2 separate regions of the Homo sapiens genome follow, and region 1 is linked to region 2. The links come from fine-mapping of genetic effects on gene expression. A gene starts in region 2. The other region holds a variant in brackets. All regions are shown on one strand. Distances are from middle to middle. Region 1 has its middle 37 kb from the start of KCNQ5. Region 2 holds the start of KCNQ5 (potassium voltage-gated channel subfamily Q member 5).

The links.
Region 1: its variant is fine-mapped to the expression of KCNQ5 in whole blood (TOPMed, PIP above 0.99).

What each region holds. Positions count from the first base shown.
Region 1 is chr6:72,582,109-72,587,489 of GRCh38, reverse strand. No RefSeq gene overlaps it. Among named protein-coding and RNA genes, the nearest start is that of KCNQ5, 37 kb to the left of the region's middle. The variant T/G (reference allele first, on the strand shown) is at 2,127.
Region 2 is chr6:72,619,251-72,624,631 of GRCh38, reverse strand. KCNQ5 (potassium voltage-gated channel subfamily Q member 5) reads right to left here and starts at 2,568. Exons shown (of 14, transcript NM_019842.4): 1 at 2,045-2,568. The coding sequence starts at 2,442. It overlaps KCNQ5-DT (KCNQ5 divergent transcript), which reads left to right and starts at 1,953. Exons shown (of 3, transcript NR_186827.1): 1 at 1,953-2,100. RefSeq lists silencers at 1,234-1,283, 2,314-2,573 and enhancers at 932-1,883, 3,994-4,183.

The DNA.
Region 1 (5,381 bases), 37 kb after region 2:
CATGTGCCACCACGCCTGGCTAATAGTTTTTATTATTATTATTATTTGTAGAGAAGGGGTCACACTATATTGCCCAGATCAGTCTTGAACTCCTGGGCTCAAGACAGCCTCCCACCTCAGCCTCCCAAAGTGTTGGCACCACTGCACCCAGTCTCTGCATTATTTCTTTCTTTCTTTTATTTATTTATTTATTTATTTGTTTATTTTTTGAGACAGAGTCTCGCTCTGTTGCCAGGCTAGAGTGCAGTGGCGCGATCTCAGCTCACTGCAACCTCCATCTCCCAGGTTCAAGTGATTCTGCTGCCTCAGCCTCCTAAGTAGCCGGACTACAGACGTGTGCCACCATGCCCAGCTAATTTTTGTATTTTTAGTAGAGACGGGGTTTCACCATGTTGGCCAAGATGGTCTTGATTTCTTGACCTTGTGATAATGTCTGCCTTGGCCTCCCAAAGTGCTGGGATTACAGGCATGAGCCACTGCGCCTGGCCTGTATTATTTCTTATAACTACATTTGAATCAATAATTCTCTCAATAAAATTTGAATTAAAAAATATACAAACATGTAGATGCACAATAGCAAAAATGCAAAATGCCTAAGCAAAGAAAACATGTTAAATACAACAGAAAAATAAAGATGGACTGCCTCCAAAAGAACAGCAGTTTGATAACTTCATAATGCCAACTAAGGATGCTAGGAGTCAGTAGAATACTAGCTTCGAAGTTTTAAGATAGGTAGCCAGTGAAGTTATTATCCAAAGTGAAGGTAAAATAAAGGCATCTTCAGATACACAGAAAAATAAGAGTGTTCACCACCTTCAAAACCGCACTAAAATGTAACCCTAAAGGATTTACGTAATAAGAATAAAATGACCCTACATGGAAGATGTGAGATGCATGAAGGAATAAAAAGCAAAATGATACACATATTACATATTAGTTTGTAAAATATGACAAGTTAGCATATATCCTTACCAGATATCAAGACTTAGTAACATTAACACAATATAGAATAACTAAGGCTGCCCAGTGGGACAGCAGAGGGCACCTAGAAACAGTCATGCATTTGTGAGCATTGAATTAAGCAGTGTAGAGCAGTGGAAAAGGACTTTTTTTTTTTTTCTTTTTTGAGACAGATTCTCAATCTGTCACCCAGGCTGGAGTGCAGTAGTGTGATCTCGGCTCACTGCAACCTCTGCCTCCTGGGTTCAAGAGCTTCTCCTGCCTTAGCCTCCCGAGTAGCTGGGACTACAGGCATGCGCCACCACACCCAGCTAATTTTTGTATTTTTAGTAGAGATGGGGTTTCACCATGTTGGCCGGGATGGTCTCAATCTCTTGACCTCGTGATCCACCCGCCTTGGCCTCCCAAAGTGCTGGGATGACAGGCGTGAACCACTGTGCACTGCCGCAAACCTCATTGGGAAATATATTCATGATATTTGGGAAAAAAAATATTTCTGAAATAAAACATAAAAAGCACTAACCACAAAGGAAAAGATCAATAAACATGCTTATGTTAGAAGTAAGAATTTTGGGCCAGGTGTGGTGGCTCACTGTAATCTCAGTGCTTTGGGAGGCTGAGGCAGGAGAATCACTTGAAACCAGGAGTTTGAGAACAGGCTGGACAACATAGCGAGATCCTGACTCTACAAAAAAATCTTTTTAAAAAAGTAAGTAAGAATTTTGTTCATCCAATGGTGCTATAAAATTACTAAAAGACAAGCCAGAGTAGAAGACATTTGCTAACAAAGACTCATATTCATAACATGCAATGAATGCCTACAAATCAATAAAAAGAGAAAATTTAACAGAAAAAAATGGGCAAAATAACATGAATAGGCATTTGCCCAAAAAGGTGTCAGAAAGGCCAATAAACCTTTAAAAATGTTTTTAACTTTTTTACAGTTAAGGAAATATTACTTATAGTCTTAATGAGATAACAGTACTACCCCCCACTGCCTACCACCAGATTAGCAAAATTTAAATTAACAATACACGATACTGAGAAAAACAACTCAATTTTGAAATAGAATATTTTTATAGATACTTCAACAAATATAGCTAAATGGCAAATAAATATATGAAAACGTGTTCGGCATCACTGCATTAGCACAATATAGATTAAGA[T/G]TATAACAAAATAGAACTACACATCTATTTGAATGAATCAAATTGAAATCATTGACCATACCAAATGTTGGTAAGGTTATGGAAGAACTAGACCTCTTATACGCTGCCAGTAGTAATGTAATTTTTTTTTCTTTAGACTCCCTTAAATGTGATTTGAGTCTGGAATATATTTGTTTCCTAGTTTCACTAAAAATGTAGATTTCAGGTTTTGTTTTGTTCTTGTCGCTTTTCTGTATTTTCCCATAGGAAAAGGGGAAAATGGTGACTTTCATGGCCATGTTCATGCTGGAAGCATTCTTTATATTTTTAGGCACATTAATTCATTATTTTGAAAAGTTGATTAGAGGTGCCTTTTTAATACTAAACTTTATGAGATTATATTGGGTTGGGTAGTGCTTTATAACATAACAAAACAGAAAATATTTTCATACACTGTACCACTTCTTTTGCCATGAAAATTAATCTGATCTAGTTTAGTCAACAAAATAGAGTGAATATTACAATCAGAAAATTGAATTGAAAAGGAAATAAAAACAGTTATGCTGTCCTAAAGTTATAATCACTATAATCAACAGATGAAAAAATATGTTATGGTCGCACCCAGGGAAGTTTAAATTTTAGGCATCAAAGCACGAATCCAAGAAAGTCTTGGGAATGCCTCGCCACTTTTCTGCAGATAGATATTAGACAGATTATACTTGATAAAGCACTAAAAAAGGCTCTCTGAGAAAAAATTGTTTCTTCATACCTAGCACTGGTTGGTGTCAAAGCTTTTGATCAACTGTAATCAGTTGGCTTTTAGAAACAATGACTGATATTTTCTTTAAAGAGTTCTGTCAATCTAAGTATTTTTGTAATATATTTGTTATTAGCTTGCAGCACTTTTAATCATGTTTTTTCCTTGCAGTATTTTACTATAATGCCTCTAGTTTCTTTATCATTTTGCAACTATGATCTGTTTTATACATAATTAAACACCTTTTGCATTACCACATAGTCTGCTTCATTTCCAAAATTGAAGAAATGGCTTGTGTAGTTGTTAGGAAGTGATGATTTTAAAACACTACAAGGAATAAGATTCTTTAATATATTAATTATCTGCCAGATGAGAATGGTCTGTAGACAGGGTAAAAGAAAGGCATAATTCTCTGGAATGCAAAGAAAAACTAGCTCAAGAGATTGTTACAGAATAAGAGTTACCAGCAGACAGTTTAAGAGATAAAGACTGGGGCAGTCCTCTTTGGGCATTATACTTACATATTTTAGGTAATAAATCAGACTATTAAGGATTAAACTATATAATTATTGCCACAAAGCATGTCAACAAGCTTATTATAGCAAATGAGAAAATCTCGTTGAAATTACCAAGCTTCTTGCAAGTGAAGCCCCTTGCAAGTGATCCAAAGAACCGTACACCAGGTCAGGTGAGAATTGGAACAGCATCTGCTGAAAAATGGAGTAGCCACATTCTTCCTTGAATCTTAAGTATTAGAGTAAGGGGACAGATTAGAACCAGAATAGACACATGAGCTTGGTCATAACTGACAGCCATCCTAACACACACCAGGTCTTAGAATGATAAATGCTTTATCAGGAAAAGAAAAACTAACTAAGGAAGTAATAAAAGGGATATAGTTCTATCATCAGTATCAGTCTATGGAAGAGTTACAGTCCATGTGTCCAAATGGTGTTTGCTGGTTAAGGAGTCATAGAGTTGCATACTTGGATACTAGTTTCCTTATTCTTCAAAATAAGGTAATCACAAGCAGTCTTTTCTCTCCATTTAAATAGTACTTAGCTATCACATAAAAAATCTTATCCTCAATGATCAAGTTGGCTTCATCCCTGGGATGCAAAGCTGGTTCAACATATTCAAATGAATAAACGTAATCCAACACATAAACAGAATCAGTGACAAAAACCACATGATTATCTCAATAGATGCAGAAAAGGCCTTTGATAAAATTCAACACCGCTTCATGCTAAAAACTCTCAATAAACTAGGTATTGATGGAACGTATCTCAAAATAATAAGAGCTATTTATGACAAACCCACAGCCAATATCATACTGAATGGGCAAAAGCTGGAAGCATTCCCTTTGAAAACCGGCACAGGACAGGGATGCCCTCTCTCACCACTCCTATTTAATACAGTATTGGATGTTCTGACCAGGGAAATCAGGCAAGAGAAAAGAAATAAAGGGTATTCAAATAGGAAAAGAGGAAGTCAAATTGTCTCTGTTTGCAGATGACATGGTTGTATATTTAGAAAACCCCATCATCTCAGCACAAAACTCCTTAAGCAGATAAGCAACTTCAGCAAAATCTCAGGATACAAAATCAATGTGCAAAAAGCACAGGCATTCCTATACACCAATAACAGACAAATGGAGAGCCAAATCATGAGTGAAATCCCATTCACAATTGCTACAAAGAGAATAAAATACCTAGGAATACAACTTACAAGGGATGTGAAGGACCTCTTCAAGCAGAACTACAAACCACTGCCCAAGGAAATAAGAGAAGACACAAACAAATGGAAAAACATTCCATGCTCATGGATAGGAAGAATCAATATCGTGAAAATGGCCATACTGCCCAAAGTAATTTATAGATTCAATGCTATCCCCATCAAGCTACCATTGATGTTCTTCACAGAATTAGAAAAAACTACTTTAAATTTCATGTGGAACCAAAAAAGAGCCCATATAGCTAAGACAGTCCTAAGTGAAAAGAGCAAATCTGGAGGCCTCATGCTACCTGACTTCAAATTATATTACAAGGCTACAGTAACCAAAACAGCATGGTACTGGTACTAAAACAGATACATAGACCAGAACAGAGGCCTCAGAAATAACACCACATGTATACAACCATCTGAACTTTGACAAACCTGACAAAAACAAGAAATGGGGAAAGGATTCCCTATTTAATAAATGGTGTTGGGAAAACTGGCTAGCCATATGCAGAAAACTGAAACTGGATCCCCTCCTTATATCTTACACAAAAATTAACTCAAGATGGATTAAAGACTTAAATGTGAAACCTAAAACCATAAAAATCCTAGAAGAAAACCTAGGCAATACCATTCAAGACATAGGCATGGGCAAAGACTTCATGACTAAAACACCAAAAGCAATGGCAACAAAAGGCAAAATTGACAAATGGGATCCAATTAAACTAGAGAGCTCCTGCACAGCAAAAGAAACTATCATCAGAGTGAACAGGCAAGCTACAGAATGGGAGAAAATGTTT
Region 2 (5,381 bases):
AAAGCCTGGTAGACAGAGAAGTATCCAACCTTGAACCTTTGGAAAAATCATTTATTAATGTTTTAAAATTCTGTAAGCCCATACAAACCTGTTAACACCAACACATGGAAAAGAAAATGTTGTGTTGCAAGTTCTCATTCATGTTCAAGAACAAGTTAGGAGATGCAAAGTATGTGCACCAACCAAGGCTTTCTTTAACTCTCTCTGAATATACAATGCATAATATAAAAAAAAGAAAGGCTAGAAATGTTTTGAGCATACTGTTGTAAAGAAAAAATCATAACCTATACAGTATATATATTTGCTACCAAATTGAGCATTATAATTGCTAAATTATTTTAGTATATTCTGACAGGTCAAAATAATTTACCAGGCTTATTAAGTAATATGTTTAATTACATATCAGGTCAGAGGAGATTAACGAGAAAAGTGTCAGTTGCATTTCTCTATCATTATCCTAACCACATTTAAATAAATGTGAATTTTACATAAAAGTTATACTTTTTGATGTAATGATGATGCAACACAACCGTTCTCCTTGTGTGCATTGTAAAACGGAAAGTTGGCTGGAATATTCTGCCTAATGCTACATGTTCACGTCAATCTGGGACTGTAAAATTTTCCAGACACCAGAGCCCCACAGATTGTAGACTCCACCAATTTCCTGACTCCTATGTGGTTGAATTCCAGGTTCACCTAGTTACAAAACCAGCCCTTCTTCCATGTTATTTCAAAACACGTTTCTGGTGTTGATGCTAATTCTGCATCCCAGGAGAGAGCTATGTATGGATGACATAACTTATTTCTAAAAGAAACCTAGTCCGTGTGCTCAAAACTTATTTTACTAGGAAACAAGGAATGTATCAGCGAGTATCTGCAACTTTCTCTACTGGTCTTCTAAGGTTGATGTCTTTATATTTCATCTTAACAAAAAAGAAGCAGAAATAATAATACTAAAAAAAGAGGAAGCAAAAGGAGAAGAGGAAGAAAAAAAGAATTAGACACGAGGTAACATTATAAAAACAACCTTAAAATGCCCAGATAAACGTAACTCTAATAGGAGACTGAATGAATGGACTTTGTGGGAAAAACAGTAGTAAACTTTAAAGCCACTGAAAGGTTTTAAATGCCTAAGGGAAAAATAAACATTTGCTTCCAATCATTTTCTCATTAAGCATTCTCTGCTAGATGGAGAAGGCTTACTACACACACACACACACACACACACACACACACACACTCTTTGACTCCGCGCCACAAACGGGGACTTAACCCACTGCCCGATCTCTGTCAGAGGCGACCCATTTGCGCTTCTGCTATCGCACCTCCGCCCGCGTTCCTGCGCCCCAGGTTCCCCGCTGCCTCCCCGCCCCCTGCAGCGCGGGAGCGTTGCTTCGCCTGGCCTGCTGGCCTCCTCTAGACCTTGGCCACCTTCTCCGTGGCAGGAAGGGCTACATGCACTGACAGATTTTCCGTTGGTGGTGGCTGGGTGGTGGCGAGGCGTGTTTCCGGGCGCGCTTAAAACCTAGCAGCTCTCTCCAAGTAGCAGCTTCCCCTACTCCGCCCCTAGGACTGAGGACCTAGCCCTCGATGCCCCCTCACTTCTCCCCGTCCTACCCCGCCATCACCTCCTAACCTCTCCAGTATACTCTCAAGCCTCACACGGGCGCCTGTCCTCCCTTTGCATTCCCTAGCTCCCGGGCGCCCCGTTCGGTTGAAGTTTACGTATCTTGGGACCTAATTGCTCCCAATTATCCGCGCAGCCTAAGTCCCGCGTCTGCCTGGCTCTCGCCCCGGGAGCCTGAAGCTACCGGGCAGTTCATTGGGTGTCCTCGGGGAAAAGGTTCAAGCTGTAGAGATGAGAGAAGTGGGGCTGGGGGAGGGGAGAGGCTCCAGAAGGAAGACCACGAACACGTGCGAAGAAATAAAAGCCACCACGTGTGCACGCGCGCGGGGGCCCAAGGGCGCGAGCGCGGAGCACGCCCCAGGGGGCCAGGGACAGTGGTCCCCTGCAGCGGGCATAGCAGGGGGCGCGGGTACTCACACGAAAGCGTGGTAGATGAACGCCCAGCCGCGGGGTCTCTCCAGCACGTTGTACAGGTAGTTCTGCACCCGCCGGTACTTGACGTTGCGCCGGCAGCTCTGGCTACTCGTGTAAGAGAGCGGCTTCCCCAGCAGGCTCATCCGGGCCCCCTGCTTGCCCCGGCGGCTCTCCCTCAGGCCACCGCCGCCGCCACCGAGCGTGGCCGCGCGGGTGCCCAGCAGTAGCAGGCCGTCGCCCCTGGCGGCTGCCGAGTTCAGCAGCACCCTGCCCCGGCCGGACTCCACATCCTTCATGCCGCTGCCCAAGCGCCCCCCGCCCGCCGCCGCCGCCGCTGCGCCGCTCTTCACCCAGAGCCCGGCGGCGCCGCCCTCCTCTCCTCCCGCGTGGTGGCGGGGCATGGCATCACCACGGGCACCGCGAGGGGGCCGCCAGCGCCTGCGGCGGGGGCAGCGGCCTCATGTGCGCCGGCGGGTTTCAAGGAGGAAGCCGGCGGCCGACGGGGCGCCCGCCAGCCAGAGACCTCTGAGCCGGGGGCGGGGAAGCAGGCAGCCAGCAAACCGCCCGGGCTTCGGGGCGGGAAAGGAGGGGCTGCAGAGGAGGCCGAGGAGTCCCAATTTCTAACAGCCTTTAGCTTCGAATTCTAAATCCGGACCTGTTTGGGGCGTCACTTTGAGAGGGTTTCTCTTGCTCCCTCATTCCCGCGACTACCACTCCCTCCTTCCCAAACTGCCCCCGGGGATAGAGTGGGGGAGTGCGGGGCGCTCCGAGGCGCGCTCCCACGCGCGCACACCCAGCCCCAGGCTTCCCCTTCCCTCTCTCCACTCCCCACGCCCTGCAGCGAAACGGCCCCAGAAGCCCCTCTCCGAGGCGCGAGTTCGGTTTGGTTCTGGCAGGGGCTTTGCAGCTGTCCGGAAGGTGAAGTCAGCCTTGTGTCCTGAGGAGAAACTGGAGATGCAGGTCGCTGTGCCCTCCCGCTGCTACGTCGCTGCGCCGGATCCTGCCATCCTTCCGCAAGGGGTGAGAGCGGGAACAGCCCTGCCCTGCCTTCCAGGTATTATCTAGCCTGGAGGCTGGAGCGCAAGGTAACGCTCCGGGAAGTGGCACTCGGGTCCCCGCACACGGGCGAGTCCTCAGCAGTTCAGTGGACAGACCCGCAGGACGCGGCTGCCAAGTCCGCGAGGCAAGGACCAGGCATCTTCCCGCGCCTCACTCCAGCCTGCGGACTGTGACTTTCCATCCCAGTATCAGACAAGCTCGCGAGTAACTGAACATCCTTTCCAGTCCATGGGTGGGGTGTGGAAAGGGCGTAAAACTCCAAAGTGGCTCCTCCGCGGTGAGCGAGCTGCCCCGGGGCTCTGCCTGACTGCAGCGCGAAGCCTGGGAGAACAAACCCAGTTCCCTCCGTCAAGAAATTTCCATTTAAGTCCGAGAAAGTCATATGATTGAGAAGTTCAGCAGCGGCGGCGAGGACCCAGTGTCTGGGAAAGAACACCTGGAGGATGGGGTGTCCAGGACGCCGGCTTTTCGGGGTTCCGACCCCACCCACCTTATGTTGTAACATACAAGCTTAGAGACCTGTTGCAAGGAACAACTGACTGGGTCTTCCACCACCCCTGGCACCCGGGTGGCCCAAAGCCTATGCGCCCTTGGCGGAGAGAGAGGCCACGGTGCCACTGGCCGCAGCCTCTGGCCTTCAGAAACAGTGTATTACAAAGAAAAGGCAGTTTAAATCTCACATTCAGCATAGGGAAAACTGAAGGGTGCCAGGCTCGGGGACTTCTTCCAACAGAGTGGCTCTTCCCCAAATATGAAAGAAAATCATCAAATTAAATTGAAGGCAAAACTAAGCTTCCACCACAAAGACATAGCAGATAGTTGCAAGGTGGATTCCTTCGGGCCTTTTCCTTTCCTAAGGCTAAAACAATGCTAAGACAAAAGTCTTCTTGCAGCTGTCTCCGCCCCTCCGAGATAAATACTTTCCCAATTCTCCCCCACCCTGTACACACACCCACGCCCGCGGCAGCTGATTTCTGTCTTCTGCAATAGCTCGATTTAAATGCTTTGCTTTTACTCTTTATTATCACTATTATTTGTGTGAAGCCCTCTCGCCTGCTCCTGGTCACCAGCAGGAGCCTGCTTCCCTCCCTCCTTCCCCCCAAGCCTCTGGGCAGCAGAAGCTAGCTGGGAGCTCTGTGCAGCTGGCGGCGACGCCATGTGACTGTGAGCCGAGCACCATCACCCAGAGTCACTCTCTAGCTTTCCCCTAATACACTTCACACCCACGCACTGTGGAGGTGCGAGAGAGGTTGCTCCGTGCGGTGCTATTCGAGGCAGATGCAGAGAGCGCCCTGGAGTAAGCTCTCCAATCCTAGAGCTGCGCGGGACCCTGACTGAAGGCGGAGGGGGCGGGAGGGGGTGCTGTTGCTATATTTAGACTCCCTATGGAGTTTCTGTGCAGGGACTTTCAGGGTGAAAGATCTAGAGACTTAAAATGACTCGTGTGCCCGCTTTAAACGTCAAAATCTTGGCCTTTCTGCAAGCAGTAAAATGAAAACCACTTCCTCTTAACTTAGCTGTTTTCCTTGTTGCAGACTGCTACTTTCGCTGGGTAGGTAAAGTCACTTCCATCTCTCTGGCGCGGCTGGGCCCCGCGTGCAGGCAAGAAGTCTCAGGAAGGCAGGACACAGGGACACGTTTCCCTGGAAGACAGCCAGCTGTTTAATTTCTAAGTGATGCTTTTCTGGGGATGCAGCATTAGTTCTAGTGAAACTGTATTATTGATTAAGCAAATGCCATTTAAGCTTAATTAAAAAATAAAAAAGACCCGGTTACTGGTAGCCGTTTTGAGCTGCTGAGAAGGACCTTTCACTTATGTCTTCTAGAGTAACCGCCATTTGGATACACAGCCCAGAAAAAGAGGGCCTGCTCAAGTTTTCGCGGGTAGTGTGAGAGTTACTAGGAATCCAACAACCTGGCTTCCTAGTTCACTGTTCCTTCCACCAATCAATCTGCATCTCCAGCAGAGAATGGATAAAATAGCAAACAGTTCTGGGGTTTTGTATCAATCTCTGACTGCAACCATTGGGAAAGACTGGCTTAGCTGAAGTTCTAACCTTCCTACCTTTCAATGCCCAGAAAGAAAAAGCCAAGTGAGTCTGTGCCAACCTCTCCTACAAGAGCCTCTGTTTGCACCTTGCTTTATTTGCTACCTGCTAACTTCCCTCAAAAGACGGGAATTAACTTTGGAGAAAATAAGGTGTTTGCGATTAAGCTTTGTTGTTGTTCCTTTGAATACAGACGTTGCTAGGAAACTGCCTTTTATTAGTTCGTTTTGCTG